Homo sapiens: one gene and its partners. The protein of the gene in region 1 interacts with the protein of each later gene in a pairwise test. Each region holds a gene or a part of one and is shown in the gene's direction. Other genes may lie near its edges. The genes, in order: REEP1, CLDN10 and CSRP1.

Region 1 (7,106 bases):
AAGTAAGAAAATTGAAGCATGGGGAGAAGGGAGTGGGCAAGTAAGATGGAATCAGTGGGGAGAAGGACATTTTAAATGCATACCATCAAGGTGTAGACTGTTGAGACACCTGGCTTCCTTGAAACCACTGCAAAGAGGGAAATACAATTATTAAGAGATTCAGTCCACTGTGCAACAGCCAGCTAGAGGCGTGGAAGCTTGTCTTATTTAGAATGTTTATTCTCACTGGTTCTGAGAGTAAGGCAAATATTATAGACAACACTCTTGGCAGAAATGCTCAGCGGACACAGTGACTAGGAGATGTCTTATCTTCTTAGGAGGTTCTCTCTGTAGCTTCTTCCTGAGGCTATTCTGGCTCCCTCACTGCCCACACTGGCCTCTTTTGCTCCCAGCCTCTGCTGAGCTGAGCACTTGTTTCTATTCCTGCTTGGATATCTGGGTTGTCCTTGAACCATCACTCCTACTGGGCTGGAGGGTCATTTCTTTTCTACCCTGCAATCCTTGCAGTGGAGAACATGCACAAAGCCATTTTGGTTTCAGTCCTGAGATTATAGTGATGATGGTGATTTTGGTAAGTGTGAGTTCATTGCTCAGCCTCAGTGAATCCAGACTGGATAACTAGCCTGGGTTGTTAGATGCCTGAGGATCTCACGGTGACTTTGGGCCACCTTCTGACACCCACAACCATCAGTACAGGGAAAGCCCTGGACCTGGATGTGGAGGGTACAGCATATGCAGAGGCACAGTCTCGAACCGGTACCCACCCCACTTCCATGTCATGGAGTTGGCTGCTGGGGTGGAGCTGGCCAGGCTGCTTCTGCAGTTTTTGCCTTGGTCTGAGGGCTTTTGGTCTTTTTTCCCTCCTGCCAGGCAGGAGGTATCTGTGTCCAGAAGGAATTTCCTGGTTTGGTTAATGGGGGTGTCAAGCTCTGACTTGGGACTAGAGCTGAGCTCTCTGAGATGACTTCAGGATTCTATTTAGTTTAGTTGATGAGTGGCCACTGTGTGCCCAGCCCTGGGTCAGGTGCTCAGAGAGACTGAGGGAGGATCAGCCATGGCCCCCCAGTCTCAGGATGCCTTCTGTTGGCTGAGGCAATGAGACTGACATGAGGACCAGGGCACCCAACACAAGCTGTGTGGCACAGCCTCCAAGCACTGTCGGGTCTCAGAGTGGGGAGGCCAGGGAGGGTCAGAGTATTCAGCGAGGGCTCCCTGGAGTCACTGGTCTTTGTGCTCAACAGGATGCAGCTGATTAGGACAGAGGAAGGGAGCAGAGGACAAACTAAGCCCAGAGTAAATAAGCTGAGGGAAGTGCAGAGTAGAAATAAAATAATAATAGTAATTTAAAAATCAAAGGAACATCAGTGATCTCAGGACTTTACTTACTAAGGCCCAGTCTGAACCAATCACACCCCAGCCTAAAATTCAGCTTTGCATGTTGTGCTGCTTCCTGCTGGCTGTTGGGGAGCACAGCAGTGGTAACTGGTAAAGCTGCCCAAGATTAGGGTTCAGTTGTCTGTTTTTTTACTCCACGCCTGGTGGTGGTATAGTCTAGCAAGTCCACTGTTGATGGAGAGAGAGCACATTCGGTGGCTGAATATGTTCTTAGGAGCAGGGTGTCTCAAGAAGAGCTGTGGTTTCTATCTGGAGGCCTCACGGTGATTGGACCAGATGACTTGAGAACCCCTTAGTCTTGCATTCTGTGATTCTAGGTAAAAACAATAGATGCAGCATAGAAAAATGTGTGTGTGTGATACCAGATAAGCTGGGTAGGGGCAGAAGATATTTTACATCTCAACTAAGAACCGCCTAGCAGATGACATGGAATATGTATTAGCATTTAACATTTAAAAAATACTGTGCGTTCAATGAGATGAATTAATTCTGAAGCTTTTCCCGCAGATGTATTCAAGGCAGACTGAAACAGGAATCTTGCTATCATTTTTTTTGGCAGAGGCATCTGTCAGATTCTCCTTCCTTAGGTTTCTCTGCTTCTCTAGGACTGGGCCTTCGCAAAAAAAAAAACAAACAAAAAAACTATATAGCTTTGTTTAAGGTTATCACTTAAGGCCTCCTGGCATTTTATATCCTGTCTCTTACAGGATGCTTGGAATTGAATATGCAAGTATAATATACAATGTCAACATGGCTTGTATGTACAACATAGAAACTGCTCTCCCACCCCACCCCACATCACTGCTGCCATCCTCTCTAGAGGAGATTCTTTCCCTGAGCATTCACCTGGTGTGGGATCACAGGACTGAGCTGCAGGGATTGATGTGTCTCAGTTAAAGCCGCTTCTTTCTTCACCCAGGGAAGTGATGCCCCCTTAGTAAATCTACTGAATTACTCAGAATTCAGTAGATTCTGAGTCTGTGGTTGTTTCTGTGCACAGTGCCTGGAGATTCACACAACTGCACTTTCACAATCCCAGATCCCCTGTAAGGAGGCCCCCAAAACATCAGTGCTTCCTCAGACCGAGGGGCCTCAGCTGTCCTCACAGGCCTGGTTTGCTGTGCTGTGTGCCTAACCTTGCCCTTCCCTGCTCCCTGCACTGATGCTTCCTTGCTATACCTTGTCTCATCTGTGTAGATTGTAAATGGACATTAAGTGGTTGAGGGAGATGTGAATGAGGGTGGTATGAAGGCATGGGAGCCCCACCAGGTCCAAAACCCATTGGCGTTTTCTGACGACGAGGAGGAAGACCTGCTGGATTTCATGTACAAGTATAAAGCACCTCGAAGGATGGAATTGCCCCTGGAGGTACACAGTGTCTGGGGCTGTGGGTTGGAGTGTGTTTGTCCAAAGGCTATGCCCTGGAGATTGGGGGTCCTGGGAGCAGCATCTCTTGGGGCACCAACATCTCCTCAATACCTGGGGTGGAAAGATCTCCTTCCATCAAACAAGCAGAACCAGTCACTGGATAGCATCCAGCTACTTGCCAAGGAGAGGAAATCCTATTAATTTCATTTAGAAATAGGAGCGTGAGCCGGGTGCAGTGGCTTATGCCTGTAATCCCAGCACTTTGGGAGGCCGAGGCAGGTGGATCACCTGAGGTCAGGAGTTCGAGACCAGCCTGGCCAACATGGCAAAACCCCTTATCTACTGAAAATACAAAAATTAGCCGGGTGTAGTGGCGCGCACCTGTAGTCCCAGCTGCTTGGGAAACTGAGGCAGGAGACTCGCTTGAACCCAGGAGGAGGAGGTTGCAGTGAGACTGCACTGCTGCACTCCAGCCGGGATGACACAGCGAGACTCCTTCTCAAAAAAAAAAAAAAAAAGAAAAGAAAAACAAATAGGAGAGTGGTAAAGTATCTAGGTCTTTATTGTTTTGTTTTGGTTTTTCCAGGTATTAACAACTACCACTCTAAGTTGACGTACAAGTGAAAAACAACCCAAATTGACTGTTTTGGGGGAAGAAAACTCAGAATGTGTTATTTGAAAAGTTTTTATAAATAAGAACAAGGCTTGTTCATCGCTGTATCTCCAAGACACAGCATATAGTGCCTGGTATAAAGTAGCTATTCATGAAATGTTAGTGAAGGGGTATAGCCCTTTAGGGTTACCAAAACCAATACCCTTGACATATATGCTATTTTCAGTTGTAGGATGTGGATGGAGTTCTGGCAGCAGGAGGGCTGAGCCTGGAGCCTCCTGGGCCTTGCTCTGTGATGTGGGTAGGGAGTCACCAGTCATGAGCACAGGTGCAGGGACCCCAGTCTTTCTCTCTGCTTCCTAAGGTCTCCTCTCCTATTCCCCATCTGCTGAGTATCACGGCCTGAGAGGCCATCTGAAGCAAATAGGAAGTCTCCGTACAGACCCTTGTGAGACTTATATGGGGAGATGCCTTGAAATGTTCCCTTCTGCAGACACTGAGCAGCCTAGCATTCTTATTTGTTAGGACTGTAATTATGACCACCTCCATGTGCAGTTCATCAGGTTCCTTTGCAAGGTGAGGCACACATGCATCCCTTTTAAAGTTAGAGGGTTTGGGAAAGGATGTTCTGGGCTTGGACACTGCTGGAGGAGTCTGGCCTGGGCAATCTGGCCTGGGCAGCCTCCTGATGGGGAGAGGAGCCCAGCCTAAAGAATTCTAAGGCCCAAGGGTTTGTGCTGTTTTGCTTTTGTTTATTAAAGCTGCACAAACTGCTTTACTGTTTACAGTTCACCAGCCTGCCAAGAGGCAGATTACTATAAAGGTGGGTTCCGTTGTTTCCGTTTTCAGTGTCTGTCCAGAGGTGGCTGGTAAGCATTTCCTAGTGGTAAGGCTGTAGCATGAGGACTCTATGAGAGGGCCTGAGTCTTGTTTTCTGGCTCATTCACTTCCTGCCTTGTATGTGCCTGCCCAGCACTGAGCCACTTACCAGGAAATGGTGGTGAATGCGACATGGGCCTGCCCTCAGGAAGTCCCCAGTCTGGTGGGGAGAGAGTGAGCAGGGCCCCCACACACTCCCTTCCCACTGGGTGCAAAGTCCTCTGCTGGGGGACATGTACAAAACATGAGAGAACAAAGGAGGTGACGATGCCTGGTTGTGCATGGCTGGGCAGTGGCAGGAGGGGCTCCGGGAAACCTTTGCAGAAGTGACTTTTGAGCTGGGTCCTCAAGAGGCCTAGAAATATGCAAGACAGAGGAGGGAGGGAAGGGCTTCCAGTCAGAAGGAATAGAGGCATGAATGGGCACAGTGTAGAGAAAGAAGTTCTCTGTGTATACAGAGAAGTGGACAGACACGGGGGCCAAGGGTAGGTTGGGGCCAGTTGTGTGAACCCCCTCAAGTGCTGTGCCAGAAAATGTTCCCTTCACTTTCATTGAAATAGGAACTCCTCCTGTGATCTGTGTATCCCATGGAAGGAGGGGTCTCTTGAGAGTCATTTGTGGGAGAGATGAGGTGGAGCCCTTCATATAAGTTGAGCATCCCTAATCGAAAAATCTGAAATTCTTTGAGTGTGGACAAGACGCACAAAGGTCATGCTCATAGGAGCATTTTGAATCTCAGATTTTCAGATTGGGGTGCTCAATTGGAATGTATATGCAAACATCCCAAAATCTGAAAAAAAAAAAAAAAAAATCTGAAATCCCAAACACTTCTGACTCCAGGCATTTCCGGATAAGGGATATTCAACCTGTACTTCAAGGTGGTGTTTGCCTTTGTGGTGTGGTGTGCTGTACATTAAGAGGTTTCTCATCCAGAAAGGGGACTGGAAATTTGATGATGGAAATTTGAGGCATGTACCAAAACACATTAGGCTGGTTCCCAAAGGAAATAACAAAAGCAAAGGAAGCATGCGGAGGTGTCTCTTTCTGCTGAATCATTTAAGATAATTTTGCTCCTCAGGCAGAAACAAGAAAGATGTGTCATTCTGCACAACCGTTCCCTTGGGAGATTGAGGAGCATAATTTAAGAGGGAGGCATCAGCCTCTCAAAGGGCTCAGCTTCATGCGATATGTGGGATGGGACTCTGATGATTGCTTCCTGTTGCGGAGATTCAGGGAGACCCCAGCCCTAGCCAGCTGCATTTGGCCAAAGGAGCTGGAAGTCTCAACACAATGCCTTCCAGGTGCTGACCTCAAAAGATCCCACATTTACACCAAACTGAGGGACACCTTTCTGTTTTCTCTACCAGGCACCGCCTAGAATCCTTCGATCTCGCTTCAGGAAGAAAAGTACCTCATCCTCGGCCACCGAAACCACGTGAGTGAGATGAGCCAACAGCACCGGATCCACAGAATGTTTCTTCTCTGCCTTAAAGAGCTATTCACTAATAACATAGAAATCCGCAAGCTGGGTGTGCTTTGAGTGTGCAGCCTCACAAACATGGCCTTTTCTCTCTCCCCTTCCACTTTTAAGGATTTATTTTTTTCCCCCTTTTCTTTATTTTGCTGGGGAGAGGCTAAAGGGAAAGGTAGTAGGGGCGGGGGTGGTGACCTTTAAGTCTTCTGAGGTTGGTAATTTTCCACAATTGGATTGTCATTATAGACAGCAGTGTGTTTTTTAGAAAGATAAGAGAATCACCCCTATGCTGCTGAGATGTACATTTGTAATTTATCTGTTGCATACTTAGTTTTTAGTCCTGTAAATGCAAACACAGCATTTTTTACAACTTTCTTTGTTCTTGGTACTTATACTTTGAACTATGATGTACATATTTATGGCTTTTGGCTTTTAATATAATGGACTTGCAAGGGCTGCCAGAGGTTCTGATATGTAAGAAAACTGCAAAAACAAATATAGACAAATATTTTGATTCTAGAGAACGTCTCAGATGTGCTTATAAAGCTTCCAAATACAACTCCAGTAAGACATCCCTTTCCCTGCAGGAGTGTGGTCTATATTCTTTAGATAGTTGTTTAGTCAAAAGACCAGACAAGTTACAAACTAAGAGAAACAATATTTCACAACACAGTAAAGTGTGATGAGAGGTCAGGGGAACATCCCAGTAAAAGAGAAGAGTCACAGGAAGCTCATCTCCTCCCTGGATTCTGGATTAGGAGCTTCTGAATCTTTTCCAGGGATAGGCAGGTAGCTCACTCTTGGTGCAATTTCTTGAGGATGGGAACATGTAGAGCTGCTGGAAGGAGTAATTCTGTGCTTGACAAAGGACGATTTCTCCTTTATCGTGACCAGTGCTGCCGATTTCCTGACAGAGGAGCTTACACTCTGAGCACCTTGTTTTAGCGAACTCTAGCAAAACTTGTTTAGCTTAGCAAAAACAAACACACAAAAAACTGAGAACTCTGCTGTTTCAGATATGCCATAACATACATCTGAAACACATGTGTAACAATCAAAATGGTGGGCTCTAGAATGGTTTTGGAGCTCGAGATCTTCATGGGTTAGACTTGCTGGTCAGACCCAGGAGCACCTGTGGCTCACACCTTCTGTTCCCCTCCTGGCCTGTGCAGAATGTAAACAGCAGACTCATACTCAATGGGCACTACAGGCCTTATCAGACGTTTTATACAAGCCTGGATTGCTTAGTAGGGGAATAAGGCATTCTCTGAGGGGGCTTTCCACTTAGATTGAGAATTTTATTTGAAAAGAATCTGGTTTAAATGGCATTGTGGTCCGAGGTAGCTGCTCTCCCCACTGAGAGCTGAGCCGAAATAT
Region 2 (7,952 bases), on another chromosome or scaffold:
CTCCATGCACTGCCTCTCACATACACATCTATACAGACGCCACCTTTAAATTTAACAAAGGAGGGAGGCAGAAAGTGGGAATAAAACAGTAAAGACACCAAAGGAAAACTGCTACTCTCCTCTCCTTGATGTTATCTGTGAATGACTAAGTTCATTAGGAATCCTAGACTCAGGGGTTTTTGGAGTTGAAAGTGGTCTCGGAAGATATCCAGAATAACTCCTCTGTTTTACAAATGAGGGAGCTGTAACTCAGAGACATAAAATCACTTGCCCAAAACATATAAATTAACATACTGCCCCGACCTGGGTGGGAGGTTATATTGATATTCATCAAGTGCTTATGGACAAACAAAATGTACCCAACCTGTCTACAAGCCCTGGAATGTTCTAGCATCACAGAGTGAGAGTAATTCCAGGCTCGAAGGGTATTCCTGCTGGGGCCCAAACCTTACCCCTCCCCTTCAGGGGCTCAAGAGGAGTCTACTAAGATAATTTAGAATTGGGAATGAGTGTGTTTCAAATGAATGCATGAAAAACAAATCCACAAGGTATATGGCACTGACTTGTAATAGGCCCATAGAAATATTCTGATGGAGTACAACTTCACAGGTTGCCAAATGACAGAATAAGGCAACTGTTTTTATAGTTATAATTTGCAAAAAAAATTATAGATATATATTTATATATGAATGGTGATGCAATGGTGAGAATAACTGTTCATTCTGTAACTATTCCTATCACTCTGTAGCTTTCATGCTAAGTAGATTACAAATATCATTGGATTTGCATAAGCATTAAGATAAATGAAATGTTAGGGAAAATGGAAGGAAAAAGAACACAGATATGCTCTTTTAATATCTTGGTACCGGCATTAATGTCTTCTTTAATGTGATGTAACAATACTTGGCTCCTGGGCAGTTGTTTTTTTTAGTTAATACCGTATCATCAGGAATTCAGTTTCTTCCCACCTGATTAGCAGCACGCCACCTCACTGGAATCTAGGAAGGAGCTAATGTATACTGAAACCAAATCTGATGCTTAGAAAATCCTTGAGCTATTGAAAGGCACACCTGCGTTGCTTGGTAGGTGTACTGAATCTCAAGTAAGGAATTTCTGCAAATCTCCTGTTTAGTTGGCTAAACTGGTTTTCACTCCTATTGAACAACCCCAGGGTGGGGGGGATCCTCTATTTCTCTTTAATAACCATAATAAGCCAAAGAAATAATTTTCAATGCTAATTCCAGTGACTTAGACCTCAAAAGTAGAAAGGCTCAGAATATGTTTGAGGGCATTGTATGTCTTCGGGTCAAATTTATAGATCAGTTAGTAGTTTTCATATTGGAAAAGATCTATAGCTTTTTGTAAAGACTAAACTATTGTTAACTAAGATGTTACTTTGAATAATTTAGAGGAGGCAACCTTTTTTGATGTATTCACTTTTATATTTAAATTAAGAATAGTCTCTTATGAAATTTCAGTGAACTGAATCCTAAAGAAAATAAGGAAGCATTTATCAGTCGAAAGTACTCTGTAAATCGGCTTGCAGATTAACTGCAAAGGTTATTTGGGAACTGTATAATCTTAAAGCAAAACAAGACATTTATCCATTACTTCTTTTCAAAAATCTCTATTTGGTCCATTTTTATTTTCTGGACATTCTTTTTTTAGATTATATGCTACTCCATAATATCTTTAGAATTCTCCTGACAAAACTAGCTTGAGAAGCATAAGATATAAGACATTCTAAAATAAAAATGTTTGATTCATTACATAATATTATCTAGGTATTAAAGAAAGTTAACATTTTTCATTCTTTGGTCAGGAACTCATGGCCTCCAACATACAGCTTTCCACAGTAACTATGTAGTACATCCTAGGGAAGATAAAGAAAAGAGTTTAGGGTTGTCCAACCTCATAGAAAGGAGAAAGGAAAATTAACCAAGTCCACAGGCATGACGACCCTAGTCTGTTTTAGCTGCCAAAGGAACTAATAATGCTGCCATTTAAGTTTTAATTTATGGATTGTTTGTGGTGTTTCCCATCCCTTTTAAGTTGAAATTGTGTGTTGCAATCTCTACAGTAATAGAATATTTCTTTTTTCAAAGTATTCAACAATGAGTTTAATATTCTTTCTTCCTGTGATGCATACCACCATCCGTTATGCTAAATTAACTGTTTATACACACATACACAGAGCTCAACTGGTCAGAGCTGTGGTTCTCAGCCTGAGTCCACATTAGAAGTTTTGGAAATACTGCTACCAAGGCCACCCCCAGAGATTCTGGCTTCACTGGTGTGGCGATGCGGCAGAGAGAAGAGTGTTCCAAGCAGGAATTCAGAATTTGTTTCTTCCGGATGCTATGTTGCAACGGTAATCTGGGCTTATGGATTTTTGAAGTATAATGGGTAGAGCTACATTATGTGTTAAATAAACTTTGCAGACTGGTTTAAAACACCAAACCATTCTTCAAAGTTCTTTCTTTAAAACAAACAATGTGCCTTTGGATCCAAACAGTGGACTTCATAGCAACTAGGTGATAAATTAGGAAGTGCTTGAGTCTTAAAGGTCACAGCACTACACTTGTTTTGTGGCAAAAGTAAGTCAGGGTTTTGTCTAGTAAAAACAAAGAAATAATCAATTTAGTGAGTATCTACCATAGGCGAGCCACGGTAAACAAAGGGACTATCGAACAAGGCCAGGAAATAAAGTATTAAATTTGTGTAATTTGTAATTTTAGAAAAATCAGTAAGAAATGTTATGGTTAGTGGGTTTTGTGTTTTTCAAATAGTAATTGGATCAGAAATAGGCAGATTATTCAGGAAGGAATATGGCATAGAAATAATAGTGGAAATATGCTGGAGGGCAAAAAAACAGATGATAAAACACTTTAAAAAGGCAAGCCATACAAAAGAATAGAGGATGCTTTGTAGTCATTGCTCAAAGGTGACTGATTTGCATAGCAAGGAGAATGAGAAGGAAGAGGTTAGGAAGATACTTTTTTTTTTTTTTTTTTTTTTTTTTGTATTTTTAGTAGAGACGGGATTTCACCGTGTTAGCCAGGATAGTCTCGATCTCCTGACTTCATGATCCGCCCGCCTCGGCCTCCCAAAGTGCTGGGATTACAGGTGTGAGCCACTGCGCCCAGCCAGGGAGATACTTCTTAAACTCAGTTTTTAAGTTTAGTTTACCAGTGAACCTAACATGATACATCAGGACAAGCTGGGGTTCAGAGCAGAACAGTAGGGTAACCATGTCTGCATTGTCACCCTTGTACCCATTCACGAAAGCCATGGGACCATTAAGCACAGAGAAGCCCACTACCTGCCAGCCGCTGCACGGCTGCAACAAGAGTAGGACTTACTTCGTGTTCTCAGAGCACAGATTACAACATTCGGGTAGACATTGAAGAGAGACAGATTTGGGGCTCAATAGGAAGAAAAGCTTTTTTAAAGGGCTGTCAAAACAACATGAAGAAAAACAGAATAGATACGTTGCCATGCACTGAACTGCTGGTCCTGAAGGGTGGAGCATGGGCTAAACATTATCTCTAGAAATAGACAGGAACATTGTTTTGAGTGTGGAGCGTGTCCTGCTGGTCTACAGTGATTCTTCCAATCTAAGTTTTGATGATTCTATGTCCAGCTTCCTCTCTTCTCCAGTCACCTTGTCGCCTCTAATTTCACTGGGCACCCATTTGGTTAAAAAAAAAAAGTGACAAAGGGAAATTAAGAAATTCTTCACATTGAACCAGAGTGTTTCTGCCTAAAGATAGTGACACAGAGGGTTAGCACGAGATTTATCACAGCAGACTGATTGATAGGTTTTAGACCTTTCCTTACTTTTGGCAACAAGTGAAACCTGGAAGCTCATAACAAAACTGCAAGAACCTTTAAGTGGACAAATAATAACCCGTGTCCTTGTTCTCTCATTTATGCCCAGATTTGTGGCCTCAGGAGCCAGAAGTACACCTTGATCTTTATGTTTACCTTGAGACAGCAATGAAGGGATGAAGGAATGAATGAGTTTATATTTCAATTAGGCGTGAGAGATGGAGGTGGTTTAAAAAAAAATAAAAGACAAGATAGCAGTTTTGACTGGGATAACAGCATCCTTTCATAGAATAGCCTCTAGACCTGGAAGCTGGAAGGGACCTACAGGGAAAATGTGTTGAACAAATGCCCTCTGCGTAGTGCATTAGTATGAGTACACCAGCAAGATCAAGATCGTCAGGATGCCCCATCTGCTGCTATCTTGACTTTAGGCCTGTGCCACGCACCGTTTTGCCATGACTTTCCGCATAGCACCAGGCCAAAAAGAACTGCAGAGTTTTGAGGGCAAGGCCGGTTTCCAGCCCAGAATCTGCAATGATCCCTCCTTGACAAGTCAAACAGAGTCACCCAAACAAGCGTGGCACGCAAACCTTTAGAGTTCAGCAAACCGAGGGCTGAGTTACCAAACCGTGTCCTTTCAGGGCATGCAAAAGGCTTTTCCTGCTCTGCTTCTACAAGGTAGTCAGGAAGCCAAGCTATTTGCCTTGGGTAGGGCTGGGTGGGGGTGGTGAGGTGGGGGCGCAGCAGGTTGTCCACACCCGGTTGCCAGTCTGAACCTGAGCCGCTCCAACAAGCGAGCCCTTCTCCGCGGCCCTTTGGCTCAGGGGAGCGCAGGCCGGCCTTCCTCCCGCACGCGGGCGCGGGCCAGCTGCAGATGGAGAACCCGGGGGGCGACCGCGAGCCCTCTGAGGCCCCTCAAGGGACAGGGCATGGGTGTGAGGGGTCGCGTGCGCCCCCTGGCGCCGGGTCCGCTGGGCGGGGTGGTGGGCGGGGACGGTGGGCGGAGGCGGAGGCGGGAGGCGGAGCCCCGGGGTTGGGAGTGCGGGGGTCGCGGCGCAGAGTGGGAGCCGGAGAGCGAGCGCGGCTGCAGCCGGCGGCATGGCTAGCACGGCTTCGGAGATCATCGCCTTCATGGTCTCCATCTCAGGCTGGGTACTGGTGTCCTCCACGCTGCCCACCGACTACTGGAAGGTGTCTACCATCGACGGCACGGTCATCACAACCGCCACCTATTGGGCCAACCTGTGGAAGGCGTGCGTTACCGACTCCACGGGCGTCTCCAACTGCAAGGACTTCCCCTCCATGCTGGCGCTGGACGGTCTGCATCCCCGCGGCCCCCGCCCTCAGCCCTCCTTCCTTGATGGCCAGCCCGCTAGGCGCCCTCTCGCCCCCAATACCCCCAGCGGGACCCCTAGACTGGACTCCTCTGAGGCCCGACCCGTCTCTCCCAACAGGGCCTTAGGGAGCCAGGGACGCTCCTGGTGCCCGCCCTCTCCTGATGGCTGTCTCGCGGGGCGCCTGTTCGAGCCTGGGACCCCGGGAGGGGGGACACGCAGACAGGCCCGGGTTGGTGACTCCCAGGCGTCGGGGGATGGGGAAGCTTTGCGGTCCTGAGAGTCAAGGAAGCGGCTGCCCTCCCCCACCCCCCATATCTTGGGGACCGCTGGGACCCAGAGTTCATGCTGCAGGGGCTTGTCTCCTCCACCTCCCTCCCCTACGTTCCCCGAAGGCTGGGTTCTGATAAAAATGGTGTCATTGCAAGCCAAATCCGTTTGTCCTGACCTCCCTTGAGCCATTTCGTTGGTTCTTTTAAAAGTAGGCGGGGGTGGGGGTTGAGAGGTTGGAAGCGGGAAAACATATTGCAGAATTTGTTGTTGTTATTGTTTCCCTTTAAAGAGCTTCTACAAACTTGTCTGCCTAGGCAACACTACAAACACTTCCTCCGAGTTTTAGGAAAATAATAGCCCTTGCGGTGCCGCGATGAGTCCGCAGAGGGTAGGGAATCTTGGGCCGTGAGAGCGTGGCGCCGGGAGCTGACCAGTTCTGCATCCGAGTCCCCGGTGCCTGCTGCTGTCCTGGGTTGTTCCTTTGTGGAGGTTCACCTGCGTTGCTCTGGTTAGTCAGGCCTTATGCTGGTAGCAGCTGGTGGATATTCACACAGAACTCTGGCTCTGTTGAGTTTCAAGACAACAGCCGATGTCAGCCCGGTCCCATTGATTGCTCAAGTTCTAGGCCCGTTGCTTCCAGGATTTTACAGCAAACGAATCCTGGCAGAAACTTAAGAGGAGTTATTTACATTACATATTTCTAGATTTGAGGTGTTTTTTTCTTTTATTACCGCACTTGCAGGTTTTGTTTACATAGCTGGGTAAATGAAAGAAAATAGTTGATTCCTCTAAGATGGGGTTTGCCACGAAGAGCAAACTGTTGCTCAACGTGGTATTTGATGGAACCTCCGTATAAGGAATACGCATCTAGTTTTAGAAGGGTGGCGCCCGGGTCCGTGTCCTGTTCGGTAAAATAAGCAGCCGGAACAGTGTTTATTCCCCAGCATTACCGTTGAATTTCCTGTGGTTTGTAGAGCACGCATCCAGGTAGATGAACAGGCATTCTCTTGTTCCTGTGATTTATAGTCAGCAATGTGTTACTGTCCTCTGAACACTCTTCTGTTGTAACTCTATTGTTCTCTGAGATAGTGTGCCAGATAGGTACGCTTCCTTCTGTAGGACAGTTGGGGGACAAGGGAGAGAAGGAAATGAATGCTCTATGAATATTATTAAGTGCAGAATAATAAAGTTTTCTCCTACATGTCTGCAGTGAGAGTGGAGGTGGTACCATACCTGTTTGGGGGCAGATCGGGCCGGGAGTGAAGAGGAAGTAGGAATAGTTGTCCTGGTTAGCTGGGAGGAGAACAGAGAGGAGTGACATTTTTATGCCATCCAGCTTGCAAAATGGCCTTCCTGTGTGCTCATGTGACTAAAAAATGACTTTTAAAAACATAAATGGCATGACACTACCTACTGTTGTACAACACTTTAAAATCAATGTATTTTTCCAAGTCAGTACTTAATAGAAGTGACTTGACTCTGTGTAACTGCTGCATGGTATATTCATTAGACTGCATAAAATGGCTTAGTTAACCATAGATCCATTGTGGACATTGGACCTTTTCCAGCTTTTCTTTGTTGGTGGTGCTTTACTGAAAATCTTATATTCACCTCTTTGTATGTGTGTGTATTTCTGTAGACTCCATTCCACTGAGAAATGGTATCGTAAGAGCAGTAGAATACACGTGCATTTTAATATTCAGTTCATACTGTCAAATTACTTTCCACTGACAGTGTATGAGAATACCTGCTTCTCCACATTCTCACCACTCTGTGTTAATCCAGTTTTTTTTTTTTTTTTTTTTGAGACGGAGTTTTGCTCTTGTTGCCTAGGCTGGAGTGCAGTGGCACAATCTCAGCCGACTGCAACCTCCGCCTCCCAGGTACAAGTGATTCTCCTGTCTCAGCCTCCCAAGTAGCTGGGATTACAGGCATGTGCCACCATGCCCGGCTAATTTTTTTTGCATTTAGTAGAGACAGGGTTTCACCATGTTAGGCTGATCGCGAACTCCTGAACTCAGGTCATCCACCCTCCTCGGCCTCCCAAAGTGCCGGGATTACAGGTGTGCGCCACCGCGCCCAGCCATCTTATCATTTTAGTTGGCATTTCCCTTATTGCCGTGGTCAAAATCACTGGTTATAAAAATGGTCAAAACTCACTGACCGTTTTTTTTTCTCTTTTGTGAATTGGCATCCATATCTTAGGCCCATGGTTCTGTTGTTTCTTTGTGGTTTCGATGATTTGTCAGTCCTTGATTTGTTATGTAGGTTGCAATCTCACACCATTGTTCATCTTTTAAATTTATGATGCCTTTTCTCACACAGGACTTTGAAATTTGTAATAGAATCATATTTATCAGCCTGTTTTTTTGATGACTTTCCTTCTGTGGCTTAAGATGGCATTTCTTACCGCAAAACAAACTTACTTTTCTGTATCTCTCAGAATAACATCTTGGAGGGTTAAATCATGCAACTGTGTTTTCCTGTGGAGGGGAGTTGATTCCCCCACCTGCA
Region 3 (7,076 bases), on another chromosome or scaffold:
TGCAAAATTCAAATAAATTTTTGCAATAAACCCCAAGACTTCAAGGACTGGGAGTGGATTGATTCTGACAACACTGTGGGTTCCTTACATTTACTTCTTTGCTGTCAGAGGTACCTCAGTGGAAATTTTGGAGAATACTGAGTTAGTCCAACCTCCCATTTCACACATGAGGAAAACTGAGGCCTAGGCCATGGTCACAAAGCTACTAAGTTAGCTACTGCTGTAAGCCCTGGTCTCCTCACATGCAAAGCAGGGGGTAAAAATAGTCCTTACTTCATACAGCTACTGCGAAGATTAAAGGGGACAATTGTGTAAAGTACCTGACAGGTAGTAAATGCTTAATAATTATAATTATTCCTCATTATCAACAGTATTTTATTTGTTTTTTGTTTTTTTGAGACACAGTTTCACTCTGTCACCCAGGCTGGAGTGCAGTGGTTGGATCTCGCCTCACTGCAACCTCCACCTCCCAGGTTCAAGCGATTCTCTTGTCTCAGCTTCCACAGTAGTTGGGATTACAGGCACATGCCACCATACCCGGCTAATTTTTCTATTTTTAGTAGAAATGGGGTTTCACCATGTTGACCAGGCTGGTCTTGAACTCCTGACCTCAAGTGATCTGCTGGCCTTGGCCTCCCAAAGTGCTGGGATTAAGGCATGAGCCACTGCGCCAGCCATCATTAGTATTTTAAATCATAGATGACAGAGCTGAGACTCAAACTGCAAGTTTAGGGCTGGATTTTTTTTTTCTTTTTTTAGACCATTAGATGAGTAAACTTCTTGAGGTCAGGATCCAAATTATAGGCTTCCTTGTATTCCCAGAACCTAGAGACCAGCACAGAGTGGGGCCCCAATAAATGTCTTCTGAGTGAATGGTTGGATGGATACATGGATGAACAGGTGGATGGACGGATGGATGGATGGATGGATGGAGGGAGGGATGGATGGATGGAGAGACAGATGGATGAACAAATGGATGGATGGGTGAATGAATGAATGGATGGATGGACAGATGGATGGAAGGATGGACAAGAAGATCTCCAGCCCAGACTGGATCTCTAATTTCTCTGGGATGATGAGCAGAGCTAAGCCAGACACATTCCCTTACTCTTTCCTCAGCCTCACACTCAGGTCCTCTTCACTTGGGATCAATGCGGAAAAGAAGGGTTTCACCACAGGAGAGGAGAGAGAAGATGTAGCATCAGGATGCTGATGAGGGAGGAAAGAGAAGAAAAGATGCCAGAGGAAGCAGCAGACAAAGTTGGAAGCTGGAGGACAGGGGCCCTACTTCCTGCCTGTAACAGGCCCCACTTCATTCCTAGCAGCCATCAAATACCAACCCAGAAGTGTTGGGAAATAGAGTGCACAGAGAGAACATAAAGATACTGAAAAGGTTAGACATTTGTGAGAGTCCTGAGAAGCAGGTAAGCCCCTAAGTGTGCCAAGCCTCCTTCTAGAACCCCTAGCAGATAATTTATTGGTGATGAGCTCTGACTGCATTGTCTCTGCAGATGTGGGTGCTGCTGACCAGCTCGGGCCAGTCTAGATATGGTTATATAAATGAGGTCAGCCAGAATGAGAACCTCTGCAGAATGAGAATCTCTGCCTTAAGGATGTCCCAAGTATTGATGATGTTTACTGATTTTTCTGTCATTTCAACATCAGGCTTGTTCCTGTTTGCATGGTGGGTAACCCCAGCATCACCTTTGACTCAACTCAATCCCAAAGCCCTTCCTCATCCCTCAAGTCTTCTTTATCTGCAAATGTGCTATCTAAGACCAAGCCCAAGTAACTGGCAGCAGGCTGGGAGAATAATATAGTCAGAAGGTGAGAGGTTCTGGAAAAACACCAAACAAGGCAGGTCCTACTTGGCTTCATCTGTAGCTCTGCGTAGACAGCTCCTAAGACAAGTGACCTGACAGTCTTTGGGTGGAAAAGAGGGGTGACCATCTGCCCTGGACTGCCTGAGATAGTCCTGTTGCCTTAGTGTAGTTACGAATACTACCACATACCACTTACTATCCAAAGCATTCTGGTTTAGATGACACATTGTACAGCCATTCTGTTTATAAGGTGCTTTAAGATCTGGGAGAAATCCAAGTGTGACTGCAGTGACTGCTCTTCTTTTTCTGGATCTACCCTAAAGCCATTTCACAGCACAGGTTGGCATGTCCTCACAGGGAAATCTATCAACAGTCCCATGACTCCAGAGAGGACAAACCCAGACCAAAGAAGGTAATGTAGGAGTTTGCCCTTTTGTAAAATCCTGGGCAAAACTCCGAGGCTCATCTCTCCAAGATACTGAGAATTGAAAGGAGAGGGGGAAATCCCATGGGATCGCCATCTTTGGGCGGAAGCCCTTGGTCTCTGACACTGATGGTGGTTCTGCAGTTTAATGGACCTGTTTAACTATTGCTTAGTCAGTGCAGCCGTGACCAGAAATTCTTCTGGTTTCTCCTCCTTCATCTTGGTTGGGTCAGATGAAGATGGCCCAATCTGCAAGAAACACTGGTTGTGTGCTTCTAGACATTTTAATCTTGGAGGGCCTTGTTTATAGGATGGACCTGGCCAAAGGAAAGATGTTACTTATGGTAGAAAGCAAGAAAAACCTAGATAAACACTTTTTTTTTTGAGAAACACTCTTGCTCTGTCGCCCAGGCTGGAGTGCAGTGGTGCAATCTTGGCTCACTGCAACCTCTGCCTCCTGAGTTCAAGTGATCCTTCCACCTCAGCCTCTCGAGTAGCTTGGATTACAGGCACACACCACCACGCCTGGCTAATTTTTTTAATTTTTTTGTAGAAACAGGGTTTCACCAGGTCTCGAACTCCTGGGTTTAAGCAATCTGCCTGCCTCGGCCTCCCAAAGTGTTGGGATTACAGGCGTGAGCCACAGTGCCTGGCCAAATACTTCATTTTCTAGATCATAAGATGCTTAACTTTATTCCTGGCAAAAAGTTGATTCAGCAAACCAGGGCTTTAAGTGAAGCCGGTTGGGGCCTGAACCCTTGACACCTGCCCAGGGTGGAAGACATAGCAGCTGCATCTATGGGCCACCTGGGGTGTAGGGTGACCAGCTGGAGGCTGTGAGCTTCTCTGCTCCCTGAAATGCCTGCACGGGGCACTCAGGAAGGGCTGGGGACTGGGTGAGGAGGTGTGGACAGAATGTCCCCTGGAAACTGCCCCAGGGGCAGCTTGAGTGGCCTGAGCCTGTGTCTGTCCTACTGAAGGTTGGAGCCCCAGAGAAAAGCCTCTATGGAGGCACCCACTTTTCAGAACTGCTGCTTTTGCGGGAGAACACCTTTTTCCAGGTGTTGTCCTTAGGGTAGCAGGGAAGACTGGGAAAAACTGAGGGGCAAGAGCTGTTGGAGGGGGGAGTTACATTTATTGAGTGTCTATTACATGCCGGGTGCTGCTGAAGGTCTGCGGGTCCTACCGGATCTCCTTTTAGCCCCTCACATCCCTGTAGATTACACGCCGTTCACAGATGACCCTGAACCCAGAAGGGCTGTCTAGGCCCAGGGCCCAGCTAGTGAGTGGATGGGCAGAATCAGACCTGCCCTGGAAGGGTCTGTCTTACCCTGGCGCCCAAAATGTGTCCCTCACCCTCTGCCACCAGGACAAGTAAATTCGAGACACCCTTTCGTTAGGGGCTCAAGTTTATCATGGGTCTGACCTCTAAGGTCATATCTCCGCCTTCTCACCTGACAGACAGGAAACTCCTGAAATGCCCCTCGCACGTGCAAGACGTTTTCCGCGGTGGCGGCGACAGGGCGCACAGTGGGACCGCAGCACGAGCTCGGAGCACCCCCAGAGTCGGCGACTCCTGCCCCCGCCCCTGCCGGCCGGCCTTCCCGGGGCCTAGGAGGGCAGCACCGCCGGGCTTCGCGCCATGACATCAGCCCTGGAGTGGTGCAGTGTGCAAAGCCCACTGGTTGGCGTGGCCCGGGACACGCCTTCCGCGGAGCGGAACAAAACGGCGCGCAGGCCGGGCGCACCCAGCCGCCACTTCCGAGAGCGCCTGCCGCCCCTGCGCCGCCGAGCCAGCTGCCAGGTGAGTGCGCCCTGAGTCGCGCGGCTCTGCCCGCCGCGGAGGGGCGCCTGGGCACGCACTCAGCGCCTCCCGGTCTTGCCAGCCCCGCCGCAGCCCCGGGGCTGTCGCAGGCGGGGAACTGTGAGAAGTGACCGCAGTTAGCCCGGGCAGTGCTGCTCTTTTCTGGAGGCACTAGGTCCGTCCCCATCCCGGGCCTTCCTGGGCTTCCTGGACACAGTTGACTTCCGCGTGTGCGTGACCCAGGGCGACCCGGCTCCCCGCAACCGCCTGCAAGTCGGGCAGAACAATCGGCGATTCTGCGCGCCACTGACGCTCATTGTATGGCAGAGAGATGAGGGCATCCGTGCCACCCCCTCCCTCACCCTCCTGCTGGGGAGAAAATGCCCGCGGGCGGGGTGGGGCAAACATCTGGGCCTGACCTTGGACATCTGTGTCCCTGAGCGCAGGTGTGAGTTTTCCCTCTTGTGAAATAACTGCATGGAAACCTCTCCACTCCAAATCTTGGTGCTAGGTGGTGATGGTTACTGAAACCTGAAAGAGCCTGCAGTCAGTGTTTTGTGGCCTCAGTCCTTGAAAGCTGGGAAGTGATAAAGGGGCTGGTATTGAGCACATTTAAAGCAAATCACAATGTGTTAGCTAACAATCAGCCCTCTGAGGCAGGTATTGTATCTACTGGTACAGACTAGAGAATATTTTGCATGCTTCTGGTTCTGGTGCTGTTGTGAACTAACCAGGACCCAGGAATCGGCTGGAGCAATAGTGGGCTCAGGCTCTGCCTAGAGCCCTGGGCTCCAGCCACCCACCAGCTGCTCCCTGAGAGTGAATGAATGGGCAGGCTCTCCCCACGCTGGGATACTATCACAGTGGCACCGAGGAAATCCACTGGGCCCTGGTAGAAAGTATATCAGTATATCATGAAGAGGTGGCTTGGAGTCTTGGTGGGATTGTTTGGAAGGCAGAGTTTTGACTCTTGGATTTGCCACTTAACGCGCAGGTTTCCTTGGACAAACTATTTAACTTCTCAATGTCTCAGTTTCTTTCAGGGATGCTACTTGGGGAGCATATTACACAGAACCTCCAACACAGGAGTGATCTCTCAGTTACTGTCTTTCTTGTCCTCCCCTCATCCCTTGCCTTCCTCCCAGAAGCTAAGGAGGCTGGAGGTGCTGGTTGTCTCCCTCTGTCCTCTCAGACTGCATGTTGGGGATTTTCCCCAGGTGGGATTTGGGGATGGGTACTGAGCCTCCCCTCAACTGCTCTCACTCAACTGCTGCCTCCTGACTCTCCAGCTGGTTTCTGGCTACCTCTTTTGAGAGAGACTGTCCTCAGCCCTCAGCTGCTGGAGGGCAGCTTTTACCCATTGTTTCCTAAATCCAGCCTCCTCCTGCTCACGGTCTTCCAGTGAATGACTCTTTGCCTTGGAGAGGATATCCGGGGCGGAGGCAGTCAGACGAGGAAGGAAGTTTATCCTGCAGAGGGTGTAGTGTGGGTTAGAGGAGAGGGAGGAGAGAACTGTCTGCAAGGCCTGAGATGCCCAGGATGGAGGGTATGGGGAAGAAGAAGCAGGAGAGAAACTAAAGAGAAGGCCCATCAACTCTGCAATTGGCCTGCTAATAAAATGGGAAAAACAGGGGTGCTGTGGCCTATTTGCCTGTGGTCTGTCTTAGCACCTGCCTTCCTGGCCCAGGTGTTTGCTCTTTTAATTGCACACATGTGCATCTGCCTCTGGAGCTAGTGAGTCCTGACTGGGCCAGAGTTGCAGCCTGGGAGTGTAGTGACACTTGACTGAGTGATCAGCAAACATTTGATGAATGAGTGGGGTAGCAATGGTCTTTCAGCTGAGTTGGCCTACGGGATACTCATAAACCTTGCAAATAGTTACTAGCCAGTTTTTCCACTTGGGTAGATTGACAAGCAGGTGAGAGAAAAAAGGCGTAGGTTTTTTTTGGGCTTTTTTGTGTGTTTTTGTTTTGAGGCAGTCTTGCTCTGTCACCCAGGCTGGAGTGCAATGGCGTGACATTGGCTCACTGCAACCTCTGCCTCCTGGGTTCAAGCGATTCTCCTGCCTCAGCCTTCCAAGTAGCTGGGATTACAGGTGTCTGCCAATATGCCCAGCTAATTGTTTGTATTTTTAGTAGAGACGGCATTTCGCCATGTTGGCCAGGCTGTTTTTGAACTCCTGACCTCAGGTGATCCACCTGCCTCGGCCTCCCAAAGTGTTGGGATTACAGGCATGAGCCACTGCGCCCGGCCTGGTGTTTTTTTTTTTTTTGGAGACAGCGTCTCACTATATTGGCCAGTCTGGTCTCGAACTCCTGGCCTCAAGTGATCCCCTCCCTGTCCCCACCACCATCTCAGCCTCCCAAAGTGCTGGGATTACAGGCATGACCCACTGCGCCTAGCAACATAGTTTTTAATTCACTGTCCATCCCTGGTGTGGGAAGCAAATTGGGAAGGCTTTTCTGGCAGGTTGTTAAAGTTTTAAATATGTATGTAAGCCTAGCTTATTGTGAAACGTTGGCTTGCTAGATGAAGACACATGCGTTAAATATTTTGGGATCCAAAGAGGTGCTAGTGAGAATAAGACTTTTTCCTCCAAGTCAGCCATTTGGCATTACTCAGGGCATATTGTCAAATATCAAAAGAGATACAAACCTGAACGATAAGTGTTAGAGTTGGCCTCTCCTTAAGATAAGGATAACCAGATATCTGCACTTGCAGTGTACCAGACAGTGTGAGAAATACTTCACATGTGTTATCTTGGACAATTTATGAGGTAGCTACTGATGCTCTCCATTTTACAAATGGAGAAACTGAGGCTCAGAGGTAGTAAGAAACTTGCTCAGGATCACAGCTGATCAGTTGTGGAGCTGCCATTCAAACATAAGCTGACTGTTTCCAAAACGTATGCTCAGTCACTACCTTATTATTTTTCTTTGCTCCTCTACATTTCCTTTTTCCAGATCAACTCACTAAGGAAATATCTGCCATTTGTGAAACACATCAGCTTTACAAGGTGCTTTAC

The links.
Region 2: the proteins of REEP1 (region 1) and CLDN10 interact in binary tests that used the Homo sapiens proteins (3 or more experiments, as listed by UniProt).
Region 3: the proteins of REEP1 (region 1) and CSRP1 interact in binary tests that used the Homo sapiens proteins (3 or more experiments, as listed by UniProt).

Annotation. Positions count from the first base shown.
Region 1 is NC_000002.12:86,215,627-86,222,732, reverse strand, and holds part of REEP1 (receptor expression-enhancing protein 1), read left to right. Parts: intron 1-2,611; coding exon 2,612-2,763; intron 2,764-5,622; coding exon 5,623-5,694; 3' UTR 5,695-7,106.
Region 2 is NC_000013.11:95,547,825-95,555,776, forward strand, and holds the start of CLDN10 (claudin-10), read left to right. Parts: upstream 1-4,895; 5' UTR 4,896-4,929; coding exon 4,930-5,149; exon of another isoform or gene 5,150-7,952. UniProt on the Homo sapiens protein: Forms paracellular channels: polymerizes in tight junction strands with cation- and anion-selective channels through the strands, conveying epithelial permeability in a process known as paracellular tight junction permeability.
Region 3 is NC_000001.11:201,504,045-201,511,120, reverse strand, and holds the start of CSRP1 (cysteine and glycine-rich protein 1), read left to right. Parts: upstream 1-3,997; 5' UTR 3,998-4,051; intron 4,052-4,281; exon of another isoform or gene 4,282-4,497; intron 4,498-7,076. UniProt on the Homo sapiens protein: Could play a role in neuronal development.